Linked DNA regions of Homo sapiens: region 1 is linked to region 2. Evidence: fine-mapped expression QTL. A gene starts in region 2. The other region holds a variant in brackets. All regions are shown on one strand. Distances are between the middles of the regions.

Region 1 (9,202 bases), 28 kb after region 2:
ACATCGCCAGAAGCTAGTCTGTGGAGAATTCTTCCAATCAGATATAAAATTACAAGGACAATACCTTTGTGTATAGTTCTGGCTTTTAAAATCTTTTTAATGTTTCACATATTCAAAGAACAAACTTAAAATGAATAAGGTCCGGCAAGGTTACAGGATTAAGAGCAATGTACAAATATTAATTGTATTGTATACAGTAGCAATGAGCAAACCAAAAATGAAATTAAGAAAGTAATTTCACTTAAGATAAAAATTCTAAAATACTTAGAAGTAAATTTAACAAAGATGTACAAAACTTATACTGTGAAAACTACAAAGCTTTGTTGAAATAAATCAAAGAAGAAACCAAATAAATGTAAAAACAGTCTATGTTCATGGATTGGAAGATTTAATATTCTCAAGATGTCAGTGTTAACATAACAAGATGTGTGTTATACTTTAGTTTTTAAAAAATGGCCAAAAACGTGGTGGGATAGTTGAATATGATTCATCCTTCCCAGACCCACATGACCTGAACACTGTGATGCGTTATAATGGCAGGGAGAGGAATTTTGGATTCAACCTGATCTGAATTGGAACCCTGGCTTTATTATTTACTAATGTATGTCTTTCCTCATTTTTTCTTGATGTTGCTGGTTCTGATTTTCTTCATTTGCTCAATAAGGATGATAAATAGCTACTCCTCAGGGTTGCTGTGGGGATCAGATATGATACGAGTAAAGGGCTGGCACTACTGGTTTCCTAAACCCAACTCCCTTCCATCTTGCCCATGTCCCATGCAGGTATTGGAAAACCCAAGCATTGACTCTCCAGACCAGCCTCGCACCTAAGAACGCCGTGGGATGCAGTTTCAGACAGTGAGAAATCTGCTGGGGATGCCTGGGAAAGGGACATACCTGGCAGGTGCCGCTCCATGGCCTTCTTGCTGCCTTGAATTGGGACATGAGCCTGAGTCGCAGCAGCCGTCTTGTGACTGAGAGGTGGCAAGCAGGAGGAAGAGGCTAAGAGAATAGAGACACTGTTGAGCTGCTGAAGCACAGCAAGCGGCCACTTCTCTATGCTTCTTGCTATTTGACTGTTAAGCTAGTGCAAGTTACTTTTCTGGTCAGAATGAATTCATAACTGAAACATGCTTTAAAGTATGACTATTATTATTAAATGCAGCATAAGCTTTCCATAGCTGCTACACGATCACACCCACTGCTGTCTCAGACTGACCAGTGGCCGACTAAACATGACAGCAAGTACTGTTGCCAGCCTCTGCCTTCTTATACTTGTGGAGTTTGTTTAAATCTAAATTCAGGACTCACCCTGTTAAATTTTATCTCCTTAGCTTGTCCCCTTCTTTTCAGAGATTTGCAATTCAAATTAGTATTATAACCTCAATTGATATATGGCTGTGGACCAGTCAGGAATCATTGAATCATCCCCCACTTTGGAAAGCATAAGAGGCTGTAATTGCATTTTATATCAACCCTCTCCTATGCCCTCCCCGTCACGTGCATCAACATCTCTTTTCTCTCAGAAAGACCTCATCTTATTTGAGGTGATATTTGAGTACATAGTTCCTTTTAGGGTACTGGGGACCTTTTTGGTGGTAGGGTGGAGAGTGTGCACCACAGAGACTAGTCACCAAGAGTCCCTGCAGTTAAGTCTGCGTATCCTGTGCTGGTGAAGGGTGGATGGGCTTTATGCAAATCTCTGCTTGGCTGCAGAATCTCCCAGTGAGATGAGCAAGGGTGCTTTGCAGTCAGTGTTGAAACCCCAGAAGAGCAGGAAATGATGCTGTTCCTGCCCAAAGGCAGAATGAAATGCAAGGAAAGGAGAAAAACATTATGACATAAGTATTAAGAAAGATGCTGTTTACGGGAACTCTGAAAGACTGGAATTCAGAGCCGCTACCAATTAAGAAAGTTAATGATGACTTGCAGCAGGTTTGCAGAAAGTGAAAGGAAGGTGAGGCTATTTAATTGCCACCATAACAGAAGAACTTGTAGAAAATAGGAATGGGATCACAATCATTATTAACTCATAAAAAATTTATAGGGTGCCATTTCTAATACGACACTGTGCAGGGATACTGCAGTCTAGCGTTACCTCCAGTTTAGACAGGCTGAAATACATACAGTTTCTCATCTGTATGAGATAAGGTGATATAAAATGAAGCTGATCGGGCTAGTTTATTGGATAAAACCAACAACGAAGGGAAATAAGTAACTATTTATACAACATGGTAACTATCTACATTGTTCATTAGCAGACGATGTTTGTAACTGGAGATGAAATGCATTAAGCATGTTTGGGAAAGGAATAAATGGGATGTAACCATGGAAGTCCTATGCTTAACCAGGGTGGGGAGGGGGGCAGGGATATAGAGAACTTCAACTAGACAGGCCTGGTGGAGAAAGTGTGTGTCTAAGAATTACTTGCAAAGTGAGCTGTGTCAGGGAGCATCCTGGTGCATGCTCCAAGATATGTTGGATAACAGTTGAGTACAACTCATGATGGAATTACAAAACTCCAAGATACAGTTGGATAGTTGGGTAACAGTTGAGCATCACCATGATGGAAGAGATGAAGAGACTTTTTGAATGTGTTTGAGAGGAGTGAAATGAATCCTACAATGATAATAATAATAATTGCTATTATTTTTTCAGACACGTGTGAAACCAGAAAAAAATAAATTAGGTGAAAGAATCTTCATTCCTGGTGACACCTTAGAAGAAGAAACAGACAATCTTGGATGGATTTGTTAAAGATCAGAGGATCCATAATGTCATGCAAAATGGTGGGATTGGGGGCAAACAGATCAAGTTGATGAGTGGGGTTAGCAACAGTGAGACCTGAAAGAGAAAACAAGTTAACAGAAGCCAGACTAAGTGCAGGACTAACCTGCACCCTAAGAGGGTGCAGGCTCAGGAACCAGTCCATGAGGAGTTGCACCATAGTAAGGGGTAGAGATGAACTGAAGCTCGCTCATGATTACCAGCGGTATTGGCCTCTCCAAGAACTAAAAATAACCTCCTTCTTTGTCTTGCTGTTACTTCCAAGCCACAGCCGAGTTCTCTCTCTATACTTACACCTCAGATGAATGAGCAGTGCCTGTGGCTGTGGCCAGTGTCTTTTATTCCCACCTGGTTCCTCCCAGTCTGTGTTCCATGTTGTCACTGCCCCAACTGCACAAGCCTTTTCCTAGTCCTCAATCTTTTCTCCCCACAGCAGCCCTGGGCACAGTAGACCTCCCTAGCCTTTTGAGGAACCTCTTCTGTTACCTGACTGCTGTGGTCTACGTGACCATCTTACCTCTTCCTCTGCATTTTCCTTGTGTCTGTCACTGACTCTCTCCCGTGTCCCGCTCCCCAACTGTGGGTGCCCCAGATGTGTCAATCCTCATTCTCCGATCTTCTCTCTTTATACTAGATTCTAATTCACCTTTATTCATCTATACTCCCAGAGTCAAGTTTTGATTATGTATATATAACCAAATGGCATATAACTCTATCTATCTATCTATCTATCTATCTATCTATCTATGCCATCTCATTTCATGTCTTCACGAAATATCTGTTAGCTGTTTTTCTCCAGATTATCATCCTTCCTTAAGTGCTGTTGTGGTAGCAGTGGTGGTGGTAGTAGCAGTAGTAACAGCAACAACCTCTATCATATAGTAAATGCTAACTATATCTCAGGTGCTTTAGTAAAATCTCATTTAAGCCTTTCAATGTTATACATTGATATTGCTGTTGAACACATTTTATAGAGGAGGAAACAATCTCAGCAGGTTTAACGGTGGTTCCCAGTCACACAGCTAACACAGAACACGGCCTTGAACTCAGATTTTGTCTGACTAAAGTTTGTCATCCTATTTCTGTGCTAAAGCTTCTACAGCAGTCCCTGTTGCTTACCAGGTGAGGCCCAGCATCCTCACGGACCATCCCGGATCTCCGTAACGTAGCTCCACTGATCTGCTCCAGTGACTGCCTTCTGCTCCCAGAGTGGCACCTCCTTAACCACCCTCACCTTCCTACGCAGTGAATGAAGTGCAGACATGAATCCTGAGTCTGCCATTTAGTACTTCTCTAAAACTGACTTCTTGTATTTGTAAAATACCCGCCTCACAATCTCAGGATTGCTGTGAGCATCGTATATAATGAGTGCAAAGGGCCCGGCATAGTGCAAGGGACATGATAGGTGCATAACGAATAGGACCCACTGAGGCTGTTACTCATATTTCTGCTCTTGTGCCTTGTTCGTGTTATTCTCTACATATGAAATGTTTGTACTTCCTATTGCTCTGGCCTGACAGTCCTTAAGGGCTAAATTCCATCTTTACTAAATGTTTCCTTGGCTCTAACACACATTGATCTCTCCCCTCCCCAATTCTGAATGCACTTTCTTTTTTCTTTTTTTTTTTTTTGAGACAGAGTCTCGCTCTGTCGCCCAGCCTGGAGTGCAGTGGCGCGATCTCGGCTCACTGCAAGCTCCGCCTCCCGGGTTCATGCCATTCTCCTGCCTCAGCCTCCCGAGTAGCTGGGACTACAGGCGCCCACCACCACGCCCAGCTAATTTTTTGCATTTTTAGTAGAGACGGGGTTTCACCGTGTTAGCCAGGATGGTCTCGATCTCCTGACCTCGTGATCTGCCCGCCTCGGCCTCCCAAAGTGCTGGGATTACAGGCGTGAGCCACCGTGCCCGGCCCTCTGAATGCACTTTCTATATACACCAGGTGGCTGGTGTTATCTACTGTCTTATTCTTGAATGGCTTTGGGTAAGCGAGCCTCATAAGTTACTGGTGAGCTTGCTTGTATTGCTTCTGTGCTCCTCTCAAAGCTACTGGCACACTGTACCAAAGTGATTTGTTCATTGATTGATGGAGAAATGTAAACATTGGGACAAATCAGAGAGAAAAAAGGGCAAATTGGACATTATCTTGTTCGATTTCAGTTGGCAGTCAATGGTTTGTGTTCAAATTATCCTACAGAGGCTTGAACCAGGAGGGGAGGTTCAGAAAACAGATGGTGGGAAAGAGAACAGATCTCTGTATTATGGAGCTTTGACTTTAAAATTATTTCTCTTAAAGAAGAGATAGACCCAAAAGGAAATGATCTGAGATAAATTTCCAGGGACCAGTAAGACAGAAGTACCACTAAATATGAAGAGGCAGTGG[A/G]CTGGGAATAATGAGAGAAGACCCAGGCAATCATGCCTGTAAGTTACGATAAAGAAAACAGGAAGCACATTTCGACAGAAAAACCATACTTTACATTAAAGAAGTGAGATTGTGTCTGTTGCAAGAGTGAGAGGGAAAGCCCGCAACGACCTCAGGGACCCAGTGAATTAGCTCACGGGAAGCCCAGGGCCTCTTTTGCTAGCTGCTAATGAAGGGAATTAGATAACCATGTTATTTTGAAAGAAAACAGATTATGTTTATTGAATGATCTAAAAGAAGCGAAAAGGGCTAGGTAAAGATGCCATGTTTTGGATTCTGATGTTGGGTCACACCAGGGCGCCCATTCTTCTGTATTCACAAAATGCCCAAATAGGGAGAGGTCTTGCCAGGCGCGTGAACTCGCCACTGTGGCTGAGCAACAAAGGTACATTGAAAGGAAGCGTGTGTGTTTGTGGCTTTGAGCCCCTTTTCCTATTCTGCTGAAGATTAGGAAATTATAGGTTATACTGCTTGAAATGAAGACAGAGTAAATGGTAGGAGGGTTGTAAATCACCTGCGAAGCACCGTCTTCGACCATGCCATATAGCAAGGCTACCCAAAACACTCCAGTCTCTAATTTGTTCAACTTAAAGAATAAGAGGGATATGTCAGTCAGGACCTGCTAACTGCTGTATCAGACAACCCCAGATCCCTAACGACTTACCTCACAGTCATCAGGGGCTAGACAAGTGACCTTCCACACGATAATTCAGAGATACTGCTCCTTTCCTGTAGTTCTCCAGTCCTCAGCACAGGGTCTCAAGATCATCTAGCATCGACCAGTCAGCAAATGTCGGAAGAGGAAAGATAGCTTCCTTAGTCCCTAAGAGACAGCATCTCGTTTTCACTACATTCCACTGGTGAGAACTACTCATATGGCCACACCTAGACACAGCGGTGACTGGAAAGTTAATTTGATTGTGTTTCCAGGAAAAGGAGATAGGCTTGGTGAGTCAGTCTCTCTAGAGGAAAATATGGAACTGGGTTGGATTAAAAAAAATCCAGGCTGGGCGCGGTGGCTCATGCCTGTAATCCCAGCACTTTGGGAGGCCAAGGCGGGTGGATCACCAGAGGTCAGGAGTTCGAGACCAGCGTGGCCAACATGGTAAAACTCCGTCTCGATTAAAAATTAAAAAAAAAAAATTAGCCGGGTGTGGTGGTGGGCGCCTGTAATCCCAGCTACTCAGGAGACTGAGGCAGGAGAATAGCTTGAACCCGGGAGGCAGAGGTTGTAGTGAGCTGAGACTGCACCACTGCACTCCAGCCTGGGTGACAGAGTGAGACTCCGTCTCAAAAAAAAAAAAAAAAAAAAAAAATTCAGGTAATGATTTATATGTTTCTATCAAGCAATATGCCTATAAACATGGAATGATTGAATTTTCAGTTTCAAATACATGTTTTGGGTTGTGAAGACTCAAAAAGCTTGTGGGTCTCTTTGTTTTTGTCAAAGTATATGAATAAACGAGGATTGCAGAAGTTTACTTGTGGAATGAATGCATTAGTAAATTAATGAAGCTTTCTCCTGTACTGAAAGAAGAGTATAAGGTCATGACTCATGGTCATGAGGTAGGAAATAATTCTGCTCACCAAGAAACAAGGACATTTTAAATATCTAAAAAAGCAGAAATGAGAAAGGAAGCATGAAAAATAATCATTTAGCCAACAGTTACAGCACCTACTGACAGACAGAAAGTACAGGGCATTGACATAGTTTAAATCCAGTGACTTCCGTTTTTCCTAATAGAATCAGAGTGATAATGCATTTTAAAGGTTATTTTTATTATTTCATGTCTCCAAACCATTTTCAGAGGGAAATTATCATGGCTGTCACAACAGTAGCTTAATACACAAGGTTGATGGTATTTTACAAAAGTGTCACAAGTGGATTTTAAAGTTAAAAAAAAAAAGGGGGGCTGAGTGCAGTGGCTCATGTCTGTAATCCCAGCACTTTGGGAGGCTGAGTCGGGCGGATCACCCGAGGTCACGAGTTCGAGACCAGCCTGGACAACATGGTGAAACCCCGTCTCTACTAAAAATACAAAAATTATCCAGGTGTGGTGGTGCGCGCCTGTAATCCCAGCTACTCTGGAGGCTGAGGCAGGGGAATCACTTGAACCCTGGAGGCAGAGGTTGCAGTGAACTGAGATTGCACCACTATACTCCAGCCTGGGTGACAGGGGGAGACTCCATCTCAAAAATAAAAAATAATAAATAAGGTTAAAAAAAAGATCAGTATGATATAGCTTATATGAATAGAAAAGATGATTCTCGAACAATAGCATGAGGCATATGAGTTGAAAATAAAGCCTAGAGGTCTTCACCTACAGCAGAGAAAATTTTCACTCTCCCCCACCCCACAGAAGACAGACAGACCTACCCCAAAATTAAAATGACATTAGCCCCATAAGCATGTTTCCCTCCTCAGGTAACAAAGAAGATACCTCAGTTCTAAATCCACACAGTTTTAAAGATGTCATATATTTAATGCTCTTTTTTTTTTCTTTTTTTTTTGAGATGGAGTCTTGCTCTGTCACCCAGGCTGGAGTGCAGTGGCACGATCTTGTCTCACTGCAACCTCTGCCTCCCGGGTTCAAGCAATTCTCTGCCTCAGCCTCCCGAGTAGCTGGGATTACAGGTGCCCGCCACCACATCCAGCTAATTTTTGAATTTTTAGTAGAGACGGGGTTTCACCATCTTGGCCAGTCTGGTCTTGAACTCCTGACCTCGTGATTCACCTGCCTTGGCCTCCCAAAGTGCTGGGATTACAAGCGTGAGCCACCATGCCCGGCCTAATGCTCATTCTAACTAGAAGGAAGTAAAGCCTCAGAACAGTAAAATGATTTGCCACATGTCACAGTTGCAATAAACAGTTCAAGTCCACTCCATAAAGAGATACTAGCAATCCTACGGTTTGTCGAAAGCCAGGCTTCTCGGATAACAAAATATTCTAGGTTCTTTGACAAAATGGGTGATGGGAAGTAAGGAGGAGGGCCTAGTTTCTGAAGCTGCAGGTCATGTAAGGAGCTTGCCCTCAGGCTGGCAAGGCCTAGGAATGGGGGGTGCAGGCGGCCTTCAAGTGCCTGGGGGCCAAGAGGAAGTGCTGCTGTCCCCTGAAATCTTTTTATGGGAGGAACTGACACTGTGGGTCTGTTCAAGTCCCCAAAATGGGGACAGGCTGGGGGCTGAGGACACAGACTCAAGGCCCCTCATTGGCAGTCATGGCCAGGCCAAGGAGCCCAGCTCAGGGCTGCTGGCTTATTCTCAAGCCCCCCAGGGATGTGAAGAGGGGTGCAGAGACTCACGTTTTGCACCCACGGAGTCCAGGACTGGGGTGTTAGAAGTGGGGTAGATTTAGTGGACACAGCAGATCAAGTGCATGTGAAGAGCGCCGCAGCAGCTCTGCATCTCCCAAAGGTCCCAGCTGGTCCTCTGAAGACCCGGGATCACAACTCCACATCGTCACCTCGGGGTCCCAAAGGTCCCAGCTGGTCCTCTGAAGACCCGGGATCACAACTCCACATCGTCACCTCGGGGTCCCAAAGGTCCCAGCTGGTCCTCTGAAGACCCGGGATCACAACTCCACATCGTCACCTCGGGGTCCCAAAGGTCCCAGCTGGTCCTCTGAAGACCCGGGATCACAACTCCACATCGTCACCTCGGGGTCCCAAAGGTCCCAGCTGATCCTCTGAAGACCCGGGATCACAACTCCACATCGTCACCTCGGGGTCCCAAAGGTCCCAGCTGGTCCTCTGAAGACCCGGGATCACAACTCCACATCGTCACCTCGGGGTCCCAAAGGTCCCAGCTGGTCCTCTGAAGACCCGGGATCACAACTCCACATCGTCACCTCGGGGTCCCAAAGGTCCCAGCTGGTCCTCTGAAGACCCGGGATCACAACTCCACATCGTCACCTCGGGGTCCCAAAGGTCCCAGCTGGTCCTCTGAAGACCTGGGATCACAACTCCACATCGTCACCTCGGGGTCCCAAAGGTCCCA
Region 2 (9,202 bases):
TGTGGCTACCACCTCGGTCAGCTACCACAGCCCTGCTTTGTGGCAGACACCTGGACCCTGAAGGAGAAACTAGCTCCGGAAGCACTTTCTCATGACTCTGCTTAATAAAGGAATAAATAGTATTCAGAGTGTTTCAGTCCTTCTTATATGGACATTTCTCCCACAACAAACCTAAGGGGAAAGTGCCCATTTCTATAGCAGCCAAAGCTGTGCTAATGGATAGAGCCTACATTTATCAGAAGTCCCCTCCAGAATGAGGAAATGGTCTACAGGCAGGCCCCGTTTCCTCCTCTGATGCCCTAACTTCTTTCCATTTCTCTTTCCAAACCATGAAATCCCTATTTCAACTGCTTTTGACTAGAATACATGAACCCAAAAGTCCATTAAACCTATTCATTAGTAAAAACACTTTTCAAATTATTGTTAATTTCAAGAGTTTTAAAGCAGAACATTTTTTATTTTTTAAAGACGTATTTAAACATATAACAAAGGTTGGTAAACTGTTCTGAAAAATATCCAACAAATGGGGAGAAGTAACTAAATTATGGCCCATACAGCAAATAATGCAGTCATCTTCAGAACTTATTTTTTGAAGAATATGTAACAACGTGTAAAAAAGCCCACAATATAACTTAGGTGATAAAGTTAAATTGTCAAAATTGTAATCTTTAATTAACAATGTATGCTTAAAATTTGTTTATTGTATAGGGAAAAAAGACTGGAAGGAAATATAACAAAATGTTAATAGTATTTAATCTCTGGAAGAGCTTCATTTTTCCTATTTCCCAAATTTTCTCCAGTAAGTATGTATGACTCTTAAAATATGAAAAACAAATACAGCTTTTCTGTGGCAAGTGGTTTTTAGATATTAGACAGCTTTCAGAATTTTATTTAAACTTGAAGACCAGCAAATAATTCATAAAGAGAATCAGCCCAGGCACCTATATGGAACCACCAGTTTTGAGATTTTATTTTATTGTTTTTACTTTTTTTTTTCTAGAGATGGGGTCTTGCTCTGTTGCCCAGGCTGGTCTTGAACTCCTGGCCTCAAGCAACAAGCTATTTGCCTCCAGATGATCACATCCTTCTAAGGCAGGCAGCACAGGGGAGCAGGGCCCTTACTCACCTCCACTTAAGTTTTTGTCCAAGGGTGACACCCTCCAAGCCAGCCACACTTCAAGGAGTCTCCAATATTTCACCCGCCCCTCTTGATTCCTCAAAGGTCATAAGTGAATCAATACTGTGTTGTTTCTAACACAGTCAAGAACATGAAAGTGGGCTGGGTGCAGTGGCTCACGCCTGTAATCCTAGCACTTTGGGGAGGCCAAGGAGGGCAAATCGCTTGAGCCCAGGAGTTCGAGACAACTGGGCAATATGGCAAAACCGCTTCACTACGAAAAAAATACAAAAATTAGCTGGGCATAGTGATGTGCGCCTGTAGTCTAAGCTACTGGAGAGGCTGAAGTGGGAGGATCAACTGAGCCCAGGGAGGTGGAGAGGCTGCAACGAGCCATGATCATGCCTGTACTCCAACCTGGGCGACAGAGTGAGACCTTATCTGGGAAAAAAGAAAAAAAAAAGAAAGTGAAAATGTCATGATGTAGAAAATGAACATAACTCAGATTATGTGATAGTTTTCTCTTCTTGCCATTATATACAACCCAAGGCTTGCCACAAACTGAAATTTCTTATGCATTGACATTCAGCATTTGATGTAAAATGACAATCTTAGAGTCGCTGCCACAAACCCTGGTAAAACTGCCCCTGCCTTCTCCAGTTCACTAAGTTCAGCTACTCCTTCAGGGCTTGTGCTCCTTTAAAACTTTTCAGAAGCCCCTTGAAGTACCAACATGTTGAAACTCAAACTCAACTGCCTGCAGCTTCAGATCAGCTCTGGCCACTGAGAATTCTTCTCCAGGCCCCAGTGTCAAAGGCACTTTTGACCATCATGTGTTTGTCTGACTACCAAGTTGGACTGCCAACCTTCACTAAAAACTCCGGCACCTTTATCTACCTCCTGTCAGATCACCGCCTGTCAGAGAGGGAGGCCTAAAAAGGCTTCAGGATATCAACAGCTTTGAGCTGCCTTAGAGGAACTTCTTTTCTATTTTGTAGTACAGGAGCCTCATGCACTGCATCATCCAAACAAGACTCTCCACAAAACATTACTAATGGATTCTAATTGAACAGAGTTTGGTTACAAGAGACAGTAAACACAAATGGGCACCTGTTTTAAATGGCAAACTTACACAATAAATTCAATTGATCTTAAAAACTAAACATTCCTCTAAGGTTACTGACTATAAATATCTAGAAATTACTACTCCTATAGTCTTGCTATTTCCAGACAAGTGAAACTGGAAGGGAGAGAGGAGAAATACCCAGTTATAATGACAAGACAACCTTATCTTTTCTCAAAAGCCTCCCCAAACACACAACCATTTTCCACAAAACAGTTACATCAAAAAAGATGTAGCAAGACCTAGACATTAAGCATGCTAGAAAGTAGGGACAGTTTTACCAGTGTTTGTGGCAGCAACTCTGAGATAGTCATTTTACATCAAATGCTAAATGTCAATGCATAAGAAATTTCAGTTTGTGGTAAGCCCTGGGTTATATATAATGGCAACAAGAGAAAACTATCACATAATCTGAATTACGTTCATTTTTCTGCATACACCATGCATGCTGGTACACTTTCAGTTAGCCTAAACTTCACCCAAAAGTAGAGGTGGCTATGAAAACTCTACCTGCATGGTATAAATAGATACCTAACCCTACATGCATGGGTCACTTGTATCTACCTCCTAAATACCAAAAACTTAGAAGCCCAGATTTCTTTTCAGTCAGGCTGCCTGCGATAACAATAAAAATACTGCCAAAATAGGAACAACAGAGACAGGAAGGAAATATGCCAAAATGCTTATAATTGTGGGGAAGGGTAATTTTTTGTTTTGTTTTGTTTTTTACAGAGTCCTGCTCTGTTGCCCAGTCTGGAGTGCAGTGGCGGGATCTCAGCTCATCACAACTTCTGCCTCCTGAGTTCAAGCGATTCTCCTGGCTCAGCCTCTCGAGTAGCTGGGACTAGAGATGCATGCCACCACGCCTGGCTAATTATTTGTATTTTTAGTAGAGATAGGGTTTCTCCATGTTGGTCAGGCTGGTCTCGAACTCCTGACCTCAAATGATCTGCCCGCCTCGGTCTCCCAAAGTGCTGGGATTACAGTGAGCCACCACGCCTGTCTGGGTAATTTTTTTTTAAGTATTCTGTTTACAGTAAATTCAGAAAACAGAAGTCTTTAATATGTCTGTTTTAAAGGGGAGAGGTATAAGGTGTGCGGCTAACAAGTTTATTTTTCTAGTCGCAGAATTTGGACTCGTGAAAGATTTTAGTCTAATGCAGTTTGTTCACAAATATAAGGAGGGGGGCCTCAGACTAGGGAGGTGTTTTCCGAGTTGAGTCAGAACAAGAAAGTAAGTCTCCCAAGACCTGGTCCTTTTCCACTATATCACACTGCACTGTCTGGCTCCAATCTGATGGCGAGCAATGGTTCCTTAAAAAGCTCCATCTTCTCAAGCCTACCCAGCACAGACCTACAACTCAAACTTTAAGTTTTAGCCAGCCTAACCTTCCACGTCCACTTGAAAAAAGAAAAAAAAGAAAGAAACAATCAACCGGAAGCCTTTGATTTTTTTGCTAGCAAGAAGCCAATAATTGTTTTCTTTGGGACAATCACAGGTTAAGTTGTGAAATGGGTGGCAGAAACTGCAAGATTTAACCAGTTTCTCTCAACGCTAATCAAAGGTCAAGAAAATAAAAGACAGGGCAGTGAGAGTCGCGGGACTTTAGACACTCCTGCACCAAGAAGCTTAAAAGTCTTAGCCAGGGCACTAGAGAACGCTTTTAGAATGGTCACTCTTAATTATGCTCCATAACCTTGAAATTGGACTGAGTGGGGAAGGGGTTTCCACACTCTCACAACGCACCGACTGGGGGAACGCCTGTCCCCAGACTCGAATCCACGTGTCCATTCAAGTCATCTACCGCCACTCTCCGTCTACGCTGCCAGGTGACAGACATCATCTTTGCTTCTCAATTTCAAAAAATGCCAGCACTCCTTAGATCAATGACTCCACGGCCAAGTGCAAGGGCCACGGGCACTCCTCTGGAGTCACCGAGAGAATGTCTGCCTCTGGCAGCGGCCTCTGAGCTGCCTGTGGGCCTCGTGCCGCCGCGCTGCGTGGGGCCGGCATCTCAGCGGGCGCGAGTGCAGTCTCGCCCCACGCGCGGTCCGAACGCCCGCGAGCCCGGCCTCTGGGCAGGCGGGGGCCGCGGACGAGGGCAACGTCAGCGGCCCAGCTGGGCCACCTCCTCCCAGCCGAAGCGCGGCCTCCGGCTGCTTCGCCGGGCCGGTCCCCGCCGCCGCACACACAAGGGTCGGTCCCGCGCGCATCCCCGGCCGCGCACCAGCCCCGCGCCCGCGCCGCCCGCGACTCAGACACAGGAAGCTGCGGCAGCACGGGCACCCCGGAGGCCTCCGGCTGCCGAGGGAAGCGGGGCCGCGGGCAGGAGGCCGGAAAGGCGGCGCGGCCCCACGAGCCTGGGGTGGCTCACGCGCCTCCGCGGCGGCCGCTGCTCCGGGCTCGGCCCTGAAGGGCAACGTCAGCCGGCGCCTCGGCCGGGGCCCGGGCACCGCCGCGGGAGCAGGCGCGGCTCCGCACGGCGGGCGCACTCACCTCCTCCGTGGACCGGCCGCTCCGCCGCCGGCTGTCACTGCAGCCCACTCCCTGCCCCGCGCCGGCTCTGGATGCTATTTAAGGCGCCGCTGGCGCCGCCGCCTCGGCCCGCTGGTTGCGCCCCCGCCACCGCCGCGGCTGAGCCAGGATGCTGCTGGTGCGCTCGCCGCGCCGGCCCCGCCCTCCCGCGGCCCCGCCCCGCCCGCAGGCCCCGCCCCCGGCAGGCCCCGCCCCGCCGAGCGCCCGGCCGCCCTCCTGTCTGGGCGCGCGTGGCTGGCGGGTGGCCGGCGGTCGAGAGGCTGCGGCGGGCGAACGCCGCTGGAGTCGCCCAGACTGCCTCGGATTTCATAATGAATCTGAGGAAGGACAAAGGGTACATTGGACCGCCTCAGCTCAGAGGCCCCGCGGACCCTGGGCCCCGCGATGCCCGAGGGGCGGGCGGCGCCCTCCGGATCCTGCACCCTCAGCCCGTGCCCCGCTGGCCTCCTGGCAGGCCGGGCAGAATTCTGCTGCGAGGGCCCTGGAGGCAAGGGCCTTCCTCTCCGTTTTTCCTTGACACTGACGGGCGCGGCCCCACAGGGTTTCCCCCACGCTCCCTGGCCGGAAGACCTTTTCTGTCTGGTGTCTGCAGAGCCTGACGTGGGCAGCGCCCGCAGCTCGCGCCGGTGCAGGGGAGCTGAGGGCCGACTGCGCGCTGCACCACGGCGGCCACCTGCTGTGCGGTTCTGAGGGCTTCCGCGGTTCTGAGGGCTTCCGCGTCCCTGCCATGCCCATCTTGGGGCTTCAGAAGCCAACACGATGGTTTTCGGGCTCACATCCCAAAGGCTGCTCTTCCTTTTAGCACCTGGGACCTACCAGGAACCTCAACCTCTAACAACATTGGTCCCCGTTACCGTGGAGTTTGCGCCCAGCGTTCGCTGGAGGGCCGTTTGAAGAATGATTGTTGTCGTAAAGGCCTTTGATAATAATAGATACTGTTTACCCAGTGCTTGATGCCAGGCATTGCTACAAACACTGCGTACACATTATTCTATTTAATCTTCATAACCCAGTGAGGTAGGTACTGTCATTACTGTCCTTTCACAGAAGAGGAAGCTGGGGCACAGAGGTTAAATGCTAGTGAGAGCAGTACCACACTTGGCACTCAGGCTGCCCCCAGAGTGTGGGCACAACCAACGCAGGGCTATGCCTGGGCTGCAGGCAGGGGAAACTGACCGTGGTTCGCTCCAGGCCTCAGCCACACTGCAGTTCACTCCCACAAATAACTGAAGGACTTTCCCTGGGTGTCTCCCACAGTGTGCTGGGCGCAGTGGTGCAGTGGGGTGAGGACAACGCACACACCAGCAACCTCTCTAGCAGCTCAGTCCTTTTAGATCTCCATCTTCCAGATCTAGAAAAAATGGACTCCACGTTCGTTTTCACTGGTTCCCGCTTGGCTAATCCCTGGTTTTTCTGTCCAGATCTCGCCTCCCCATCCGTGATTTTGTCATCTTTGCCTCTCCTTTTTCCTCTTCTCCAACCGGTCCCTCAGCCCCAGAACCTCTGCAGGCACCTCCCAAGTTCTGTGGTCTATTGTTTTCAAGGGCTGCTGGAACGAAGTACCACACACTAAGTGGCTTCAACAACCGAAATGTATGGTCTGTCCTGGTTCTGGAGACTAGAAGTACAAAATCACGGCGTGGGAGGGCTGGCTGCTTCCGAGGCCCATGAAAGAGCATGTGTGCCCGGCCACTCTGACTTGCAGATGCCCATCTTCTCCCTATGTCTCCTCACACCATCTTCCCTGTGGTGTGTGTGTGCAAATCCCTTCTTTCTATAAGGACACCAGTCATACTGGACTAGGGCCCACCCGAATTGCCTCATTTTAACTTGATGACCTCTGTAATCATGAGGTAATGTCCAAGTAAGGTCCCATTCTAAGATACCTGAATGCCCAGGCACGGTGGTTCATGCCTGTAATCCCAGCACTTTGGGAGGCCGAGGCAGGCAGATCAACTGAGGTCAGGAGTTCAAGACCAGCCTGGCCAACATGGTGAAACCCTGTCTCTACTAAAAATAAAAAAATTAGCGGGGCATGGTGGTGCGTACCTGTAGTCCCAGCTACTCGGGAGGCTGAGGCAGAAGAATTGTTTGAACCCAGGGAGGTGGAGGTTGCAATGAGCCAAGATCACGCCACTGCATTCCAGCCTGGGAGACAGAGCAAGACTCTGTCTCAAAACAACAACAACAACAACAACAAACCCCTGAACATATGAACTTGGGGAATGTGGGGGTGACAATTCAACCCGTAACATGTGGATGGTCGTCACTGGCTGTCTCACCTTACGTCTTCTCCTCAAGACACTTTTCTTTTAAACTGGGTGCCTCTCCCTGGGCTCTAGCCCTTAATGAGGTGATTTCCAACTCAAGGCTGGGAAAGGCACACAACCCAGTATCAGACCTGAGTTCACACTCCTTCTGGCAGGAACTTCTAGGTGACATTGGGAAGCAACTTCATTCCTTAGAACCTAGATTTCTCCTCAGGCTATAAGGGGGCTTGGCTAAATAATCTCTTAGGTCTCTTTCAGCACACACACTTAAAAAAAAACAAAAAAGTTTTTATCTAATCACTCCAAAAAGTTTTACAATGTATGGGGTTGTCTTGTGGACTTGAGATAGAGACTTTGATGGGAGGCAGTATTGCATAGTGGTTAAGAACACAGGCTTTGGGGTGGGTGAATCCACATCAAGCCTCATTGCATCCTCCTTAAATCAGGAATAATACCTACCTCAGACAGGTGTCATAGGATTGACAGCCACGCCCTTGGCGTTCTCATTAAATGAAGATTCCAGACTCTATAGTTGGGAGTTTGTGACTTAGGTAAGAAACCAGTCTCTTTTTTTGAGACGGAGTCTCACTCTGTTGCCCAGGCTGGGGTGCAGTGGTGCGATCTCGGCTCACTGCAATCTCTACCTCCTGGGTTCATGCCATTTTCCTGCCTCAGCCTCCCAAGTAGCTGGGACCACAGGCACCCACCACCACACCCGGCTAGTTTTTTGTATTTTTAGTAGAGATGGGGTTTCATTGTGTTAGCCAGGATGGTCTCGATCTCCTGACTTCGTGATCCACCCGCCTTGGCCTCCCAAAGTGCTGGGATTACAGGCGTGAGCCACCGCGCCCGGCCTTTTTTTTTTTTTTTTTTTTAAATGAAGGACATGATTGTTTTTAAAAATTGGGCCAGGTGCGGTGGCTCACACCTGTAATCCCAGCACTTTGGGAGGCAAATGCAGGAGGATTGCTTGAGTCCGGGAATTCAAGACCAGCCTGAGCAACATAGTGAGACCCTCCGTCTCTAAGAAAAAGTTTTTAAAAATTGTGTCACAGTGATCACAATGACCACTATTCACATCATAATGGCTTTTCTTTTGGCTATTAACACTGCAGTGTTTTTGTATACTGAAATGTGTCTGTGGGACCAACAGCATTAAAGAATAAAGATCCTAGATGAAAATAAACACTAATAATCCTGGTGTCCTCTCCAATAGAATTAATCTAAACTCCTTATGAATCAGTAGCATTATAATGTTATGTAGTTATGAGGAATAGAATTCTTTTAGAAGCAGGCAGCATGAACTTATACTTCCTTGTACTTACTTCTTTAAGAAACCAGTCTTAACCCTCCTTTCTACTGTCTTTTTTTTCAAGCATCTCTCTAGCCAAGGGAATAAGAGCCAATTGGATATTGTAGTGGTGCAAATTTCCTAGCGGAAATTTGAGTCTTTTTTCGGTCACTCCTGCCCTTGTTACATTTTGGCCTGATTAAAATGTTGTGGCTAATTCTGGCTAAATCCACATTGACATCTGCCTAACACCGATTGATCAATCTCCTGGAGAAGCTAAAGAGAACTGGGCCGGGTGCAGTGGCACATGCCTGTAATCCCAGCATGTTGGGAGGCCAAGGTCGGCGGATCACTTCAGCCCAGGAGTTTGAGACCAGTGTGAGCAACATGGCGAGATCCTGTCTCTACAAAAAATACAAAACTTAGCCCAGCATGGTGGTGTGCACCTGTAGCCTATAGTCCCAGCTACATGGGAGGCTGAGGTGGGAGGATCTCTTGAACCCAGGAGGTCGAGACTGCAGTGAACCGTGATTGCACCATTGCACTTTGGCATGGGCAACAGAGCAAGACCACATCAAAAAAAAAAAAGAAAGAAAGAAAAGAAAAAAAGAATCGAAGTCTTTCTGGGTCAAGCTGATTAGCAGGTTTACAGTGGCCTTGTCTCAAAAGTTCCCACTTGTGATTAGGAACTACAAAGCTGTGATTATTATTAATCTTCTGCACCTATTGCTTTTGAGCATGGCTATCTGAAGTATAGCCACATCAATTAATAATGGCCGATGAGCTTTTAATTACAGACCTCGGTAATTGGCTGGTTAAAGGAAGATTGGCATCAGTAACTGAGTTCTTTTTGTTCAATCCATTT

Evidence for each region.
Region 1: its variant is fine-mapped to the expression of ACSL1 in whole blood (TOPMed, PIP 0.96).

Annotation. Positions count from the first base shown.
Region 1 is chr4:184,849,599-184,858,800 of GRCh38, forward strand. It overlaps MIR3945HG (MIR3945 host gene), which reads right to left and starts at 6,054. Exons shown (of 3, transcript NR_132989.1): 1 at 5,871-6,054; 2 at 897-1,001. MIR3945 (microRNA 3945) reads right to left here and starts at 1,512; the gene lies at 1,415-1,512. RefSeq lists an enhancer at 962-1,031. The variant A/G (reference allele first, on the strand shown) is at 5,168.
Region 2 is chr4:184,821,179-184,830,380 of GRCh38, forward strand. ACSL1 (acyl-CoA synthetase long chain family member 1) reads right to left here and starts at 4,790. Exons shown (of 21, transcript NM_001995.5): 1 at 4,738-4,790. It overlaps LOC105377587 (a long non-coding RNA gene), which reads left to right and starts at 4,993. Exons shown (of 3, transcript XR_939564.4): 1 at 4,993-5,793. RefSeq lists enhancers at 4,039-4,108, 5,359-5,862, 5,469-5,518, 5,689-5,968 and a silencer at 4,279-5,238.